Linked DNA regions of Homo sapiens: region 1 is linked to region 2. A link means that fine-mapping ties the variant in region 2 to the expression of a gene that starts in the linked region. Tissue or cell type: whole blood. Region 2 holds a variant in brackets; the other region holds the start of a gene. All regions are shown on one strand. Distances are from middle to middle.

Region 1 (2,897 bases), 28 kb before region 2:
TTCCCTCCTCAGACAGGATTCTCCCCACACACACCCTGCTTCCCTCCTCAGACAGGATTCTCCCCACACAGACGCTGCTTCCCTCCTCAGACAGGATTCTCCCCACACAGACCCTGCTTCCCTCCTCAGACAGGGTTCCCCTCCGCACACACACCCTCTTTCCCTCAGACAGGATTTTCCCCACACAAACCCTACTTTCCACCTCAGACAGGATTCTCCCCACATGGACCTGCTTCCTTCCCTCCTTGGGATTCCCCACTGTTGAGGTTCAGTTTCCCCATCTGGAAAAGCATCAAAGTCAGGGTAGCTGCTGACGAAAACATGGGGAGGGGATGCCTTGGGGGGCTGGGTGGGATTTCACAGACTCATTGCTCTTTAGCCTCTTGTGATTTATATATATGTGTATATATATATATATATTTTTTTTCTTGATGGGGGGTTGGGGGGCCCGGCGTGGTGGCTCACACCTGTAATTCCAGCACTTTGGGAGGCCAAAGTGGGTCTATCATCTGACGTCGGGAGTTCGAGACCAGCCTGGCCAACGTGGTGAAACCCCGTCTCTATTAAAAATACAAAAATTAGCCAGGCGTGATGGCAGGCCCCTGTAATCCCAGCTACTCGGGAGGCTGAGGCAGAAGAATCGCTTGAACCCGGGAGGCGGAGGTTGCAGCGAGCCGAGATCGTGCCACTGCACTCCAGCCTGGGCAACAGAGCAAAACTCCGTCTCAAAACAAACACAAAAACCTTTCTCTCCTCTTTTGAGATGGAGTTTCACTCTTTTCTCCCAGGCTGTAGTGCAATGGCACGATCTCGGCTCACTGCAACCTCCGCCTCCCGGGTTCAAGCGATTCTCCTGCCTCAGCCTCCCGAGTAGCTGGGATTACAGGCGCCTGCCACCACGCCCGGCTACTTTTTGTACTTTTAGTAGAGACGGGGTTTCACCACGTTGGCCAGGCTGCTCTCGAACTCCTGACTTAAGATCCAACCGCCTCGACCTCCCAAAGTGCTGGAATTACAGGCGTGAGCCGCCGCGCCCGGCCACATTTTTCTCCATCTGTGGTCTAGGCTGGCGTGCAGTGGCACAATCCCGCCTCACTGCTGCCTCGGCCTCCTGGGCTAAACGGAGCTTCCCGACTCGCCTAAGAAAGTGGTGGGATTACAGGTATGAGCCACGGCGCCCGGCTGTGATCTACATTTGATTCAGTCAAGTTTCTGTGTTTCTCAAGTTTAACTATAGCGTGGTTAAAATCCAAAAGTCAGCACCCGAGCTCACACAGGAGCTTCCTCCCTCTTGGGATGGAGACTCTCCTCCCCTCTCCCTGGACACAGCCCTTCACTCGGTCTTGGCCCCGCCTACTTCTCCATCGGCCCTGCCCCCTATCCCGAACTCTTAGTGACGCAGAGGCTGGAGACGACTCTACGGCGGCGAAGAGACGCGGGTTGAGGAAGAGGGACGGATTGCCCATGCGCTTGGGCGCACAGCGGCCCGCTTCTGTGTGGTCTGGAGGTGGAGCTGAGAGGGGAATCACACTCTATAAAGGTTCGCATACCCCACTGGCGGATTCAATTGCGGCAGTGACGTCACAGAGGCCCCGCCCCGCCCCCACAAGAGCCCCACCGACGTGGGGTTGGCGGTGGTGGAAGGACTAGGAGTTGGCGCGTGCGTACTGGCGGCCTCTCCCGCACCGACCGGCCTGGGCCCCGCCCCCGGGCGTGAGGCGCCCAATGCGCGTGCGCGGCGGCGTCGGCGCCAGTTATTTCTGTCCCGCCCCCCGGCCTCGGCTCTTTCTGCGAGCGGGCGCGCGGGCGAGCGGTTGTGCTTGTGCTTGTGGCGCGTGGTGCGGGTTTCGGCGGCGGCTGAGGAAGAAGCGCGGGCGGCGCCTTCGGGAGGCGAGCAGGCAGCAGTTGGCCGTGCCGTAGCAGCGTCCCGCGCGCGGCGGGCAGCGGCCCAGGAGGCGCGTGGCGGCGCTCGGCCTCGCGGCGGCGGCGGCGGCAGCGGCCCAGCAGTTGGCGGCGAGCGCGTCTGCGCCTGCGCGGCGGGCCCCGCGCCCCTCCTCCCCCCCTGGGCGCCCCCGGCGGCGTGTGAATGGCGGCCTCCGCGGCGGCAGCCTCGGCAGCAGCGGCCTCGGCCGCCTCTGGCAGCCCGGGCCCGGGCGAGGGCTCCGCTGGCGGCGAAAAGCGCTCCACCGCCCCTTCGGCCGCAGCCTCGGCCTCTGCCTCAGCCGCGGCGTCGTCGCCCGCGGGGGGCGGCGCCGAGGCGCTGGAGCTGCTGGAGCACTGCGGCGTGTGCAGAGAGCGCCTGCGACCCGAGAGGGAGCCCCGCCTGCTGCCCTGTTTGCACTCGGCCTGTAGTGCCTGCTTAGGGCCCGCGGCCCCCGCCGCCGCCAACAGCTCGGGGGACGGCGGGGCGGCGGGCGACGGCACCGGTAAGTACGAAGTGATCGGTGCCACCCCTCCCCCTACTCTCTGCCTTTGATTCCGACTGGGTGCAGAGATGAGGATGCCACCTGGGCGAGAGGATGGGGGCCCGGACAGGGCACGGGAAATACTTTCTGGGTCCTGCATACGAACGTGGGTTTGTGCTGGCCGCTGAGATGGGACATCTGACTAAAGTTGGAGAAAAGAAGGCTCGGGGAGGGGAGGGGCTGGTTCGCTGCGGGATAATGGTCGGGGGCCCACCCAGCAGGGGAATGGTGGGGGCCATAACCTGGGTGGGAACTTGTAACAGTCTCCCACATCCCTGCTTCTCGAAGTGGTGGACTGTCCCGTGTGCAAGCAACAGTGCTTCTCCAAAGACATCGTGGAGAATTATTTCATGCGTGATAGTGGCAGCAAGGCTGCCACCGACGCCCAGGATGCGAACCAGGTGCGTCCTATCTCAGCAACCACAAGGAGGT
Region 2 (2,828 bases):
ATGCAGGAATGGGCTGGGGAGTCTGGCCCTGGAATCCCTCTGCCCTGGGCAGCCTTGCACAGGGTCTCTGTTGCAGGTGGCCACTTCTGTACCACAAGGGAGAACGTGTGTCTGGCAAAGCGTGGTGCTGCCCAGGGTGAGGCCGAGCTGGATGATGCTCCAGTCCTGAACCCCACTCGTGGACACTCACTCACCCATCTCCGGGGTCCGCCCGGCTCCCGGCGCAGCCCATCTACTAGGGCAGCAGCCTCCTCGGGGCTGCCTGGCCGCTGCCCCTGCACACGGGCCTGGATCTCAGGGGGCAGTGCGCCCAGGAACTGCTCCAGCACCAACAGCTCCAGCATCTGCTCCTTGGAGCGTACCTCTGGACGCAGCCACTGGCGACACAGCTCTCGGAGCTGGGCCAGGGCCTCTTGGGGCCCTGTGGCCTCCTCATAGCGGAAGCACCGGAAACGCAGGCGTGCAGCTTCAGGGCCTGGGTCCCATAAGGCAGCCTCACCCTCCTCCTCAGAGTCCTCTAGCTTCACCATGACAGGCCCCTCATCTTCTGGGGGTGCTCGGTCTGGGGAGCCCAGCACCGCAGGCCTCATAGAGGGTACCAGGTCAGGTATCTGAGGCCAGTGTCTGCCCCTGGTGAAGAAATAGGATGAGGCTGTTGCAAAAGGAGTACAGTGAATGCTTCACTGCCTAGTCTATGCTGTACCGTTTGATCCTCAGACCTACCCCATGTGGAAGGCAGATGAGGAAACAGGCAAAGAAAGGCCATCTACAACCCACAGACTTATGCAGCTGGAAGCCCTCCCTTAGCCACCTGTATCCCTGGTCTTCTCTCCGCTTGGGCCTGTGCAAAGTCTCTGACAGTCTCCCTGCTCCAAACACAGGCTTTTTTTTCTTTTCTTTGAGACATGCTGTCAGTCAGTTGCCCAGGCTGAAGTGCAGTGGCGAGATCATGCGTCACTGCAGACTTGACCTCCCGGGCTCCAGAGATCGGCCTCCCAAGTAGCTGAGACAACAGGTGTGTGCCACGACATCCGGCTAATTTCTTAATTTTTCTGTAGGGATGGGATCTTACTATGTTGCCTAGGCTGTTCTTGAACTCCTGGGCTCAAGCAGATGATCCTCTTACCTTGACCTCCCGAAGTGCTGGGACTTACAGGTTTGTTCCACCATGCCAGCCCACAGGCTGTTTTTTAGGACTAGAAGACACTTCTCTCCCCTGTATCCTTCCCTTCTTCTACATGTGCAACCTCATTCCTGCGCTACAGCTCTCTCTTTACCAGGTGGATGGCACCTATACACCTACAGCCTGGGCATCAGCATCACTGCTGGCGTCTCCCCCTACCCAACGCCAGCCCTTACTTCACCTTCTATTCTCTCATCTACTTCGATGTGGCTCCTCATTTGGGCCCCACCATCATTCCCCTCCC[T/A]GCTTGGAAGCCTCACTCCACCTAATCCTCCATGTCAACCTGTGCAGTCACTTGTATGGCTCAGCTCCCAGGCAGCACCCTCTCTCCCTACTCAGCCCCATCTTCTAAGCCCAACATCACACTACGCAATGCCCCATCTCAGCTTCCTGATTTAGCTGGGGTTGGAAGGGGATGGGGGAGCTTCGCAATGGGTGGGGGGGCGGCAAAGGCTCCAAGACTGCCGGAACAGGAGCCTGCAAGGAAGTCCCGAGACTCTGATTCCGCCCATCTTCAGATCACTGTGCCTTCGAGAACTTGTTTCCCCATTTGCAAGTGGGGCTGACCTCCCTCCTCGCGCTGTTCCTTCTGCAGCTGCGGCTTTAGGAAGGAATCTGCGTTTATGAAGGGGATGGCACCGCAGAATCATTCCCCCGTGGGTGGCATCGATTTCGAGGGCCGCCTCATCCTGGGGGCCAAGCCTCCACTCTTCAAGGTGCCAAGTCAACCTGAAACCCTGGGAGAGACTTGGGTCATAGCCAAGATGGCAGGTACCTACGGAGGGTCCCGAAATACACTTCCCAGAAGTCCAGGCGGCAACTTCCGCTCCAGGGTGCCAAGGTAGGTCCAGACGACGCCTAGGCAACCGGGGGCGGGGCTCCCAAAGCCTGTCGTCGTGGCAACGAGTAGTGATTGACAAGCCTCTCGCTCTAGCCCTGGGCGCTCCCGCAAGGACTGCCCGGATTCGTTCCCCGCGCTTCCGGTCTCACTGGGGAGCCGGAATCCCCGAGTCTGCAGCCACCGCCCCCGTCCACACGATAGCCCTCCCGGTTAAGAGGACCCCGCCCTCACCTCTGCGCTCAGCGGGCCGCTCCGCGCTCCTGAGCACGCGCAGTCTTCGACTTCCCCCTCCCGCTGGACTACGTCTCCCAGGATGCTCCGCGCACCAGCTCGAGCGCCTCCTTGCCCTTCCCCCACCCTCGTCCCCGTTTCTACACCCTCTCCTCCCTTCCCCTAGCGGTGGTCGCAATGATCAGGTCATACTCCTGGCCGCTTCTTCCCATGCTCCCCGCCTCGAATCCGTGCGTCGGCATGCGCAAGCCTCTCAGGTACAACAGACGGCAGCACCGCCTACCAGATCGCGCATGCCCCCCACCACGTTTTCCTCACTTCTCTACGGGCCTTCCTGAGATTAGCAGGATCCTGCACCAATCACGGCCGTCATTAGAACTCCGTCGGTGCCCCACCGCGTCTCCATGGCAACTCCCTACAGGAAGGGGCCTCTGCTACTTCCTAGACCGCAAAATGGAGAAAGGCTTGGCCCGATGCTTTCCGGCAGATGTAGTCAGCAGGCCCTTCGTGTGTACGTGCGCGCGCGGCGCGATGACGTTCCTCTGTGATCATGGGCGAGGGGCGGGCCCTGAA

Evidence for each region.
Region 1: TRIM28 starts here. The variant in region 2 is fine-mapped to the expression of TRIM28 in whole blood (INTERVAL, PIP 0.98).

Annotation. Positions count from the first base shown.
Region 1 is chr19:58,542,672-58,545,568 of GRCh38, forward strand. It overlaps TRIM28 (tripartite motif containing 28), which reads left to right and starts at 1,393. Exons shown (of 17, transcript NM_005762.3): 1 at 1,393-2,426; 2 at 2,754-2,866. The coding sequence starts at 2,087. It also overlaps the pseudogene RN7SL525P. RefSeq lists enhancers at 568-1,072, 1,224-1,533 and silencers at 1,654-1,863, 1,944-2,103, 2,124-2,413.
Region 2 is chr19:58,570,800-58,573,627 of GRCh38, forward strand. MZF1 (myeloid zinc finger 1) reads right to left here and starts at 2,536. Exons shown (of 6, transcript NM_198055.2): 1 at 2,256-2,536; 2 at 195-630. The coding sequence starts at 590. It overlaps MZF1-AS1 (MZF1 antisense RNA 1), which reads left to right. Exons shown (of 6, transcript NR_027334.2): 4 at 1,059-1,156; 5 at 1,779-2,024; 6 at 2,118-2,828. RefSeq lists enhancers at 1,241-2,102, 2,103-2,828, 2,331-2,420, 2,481-2,828. The variant T/A (reference allele first, on the strand shown) is at 1,428.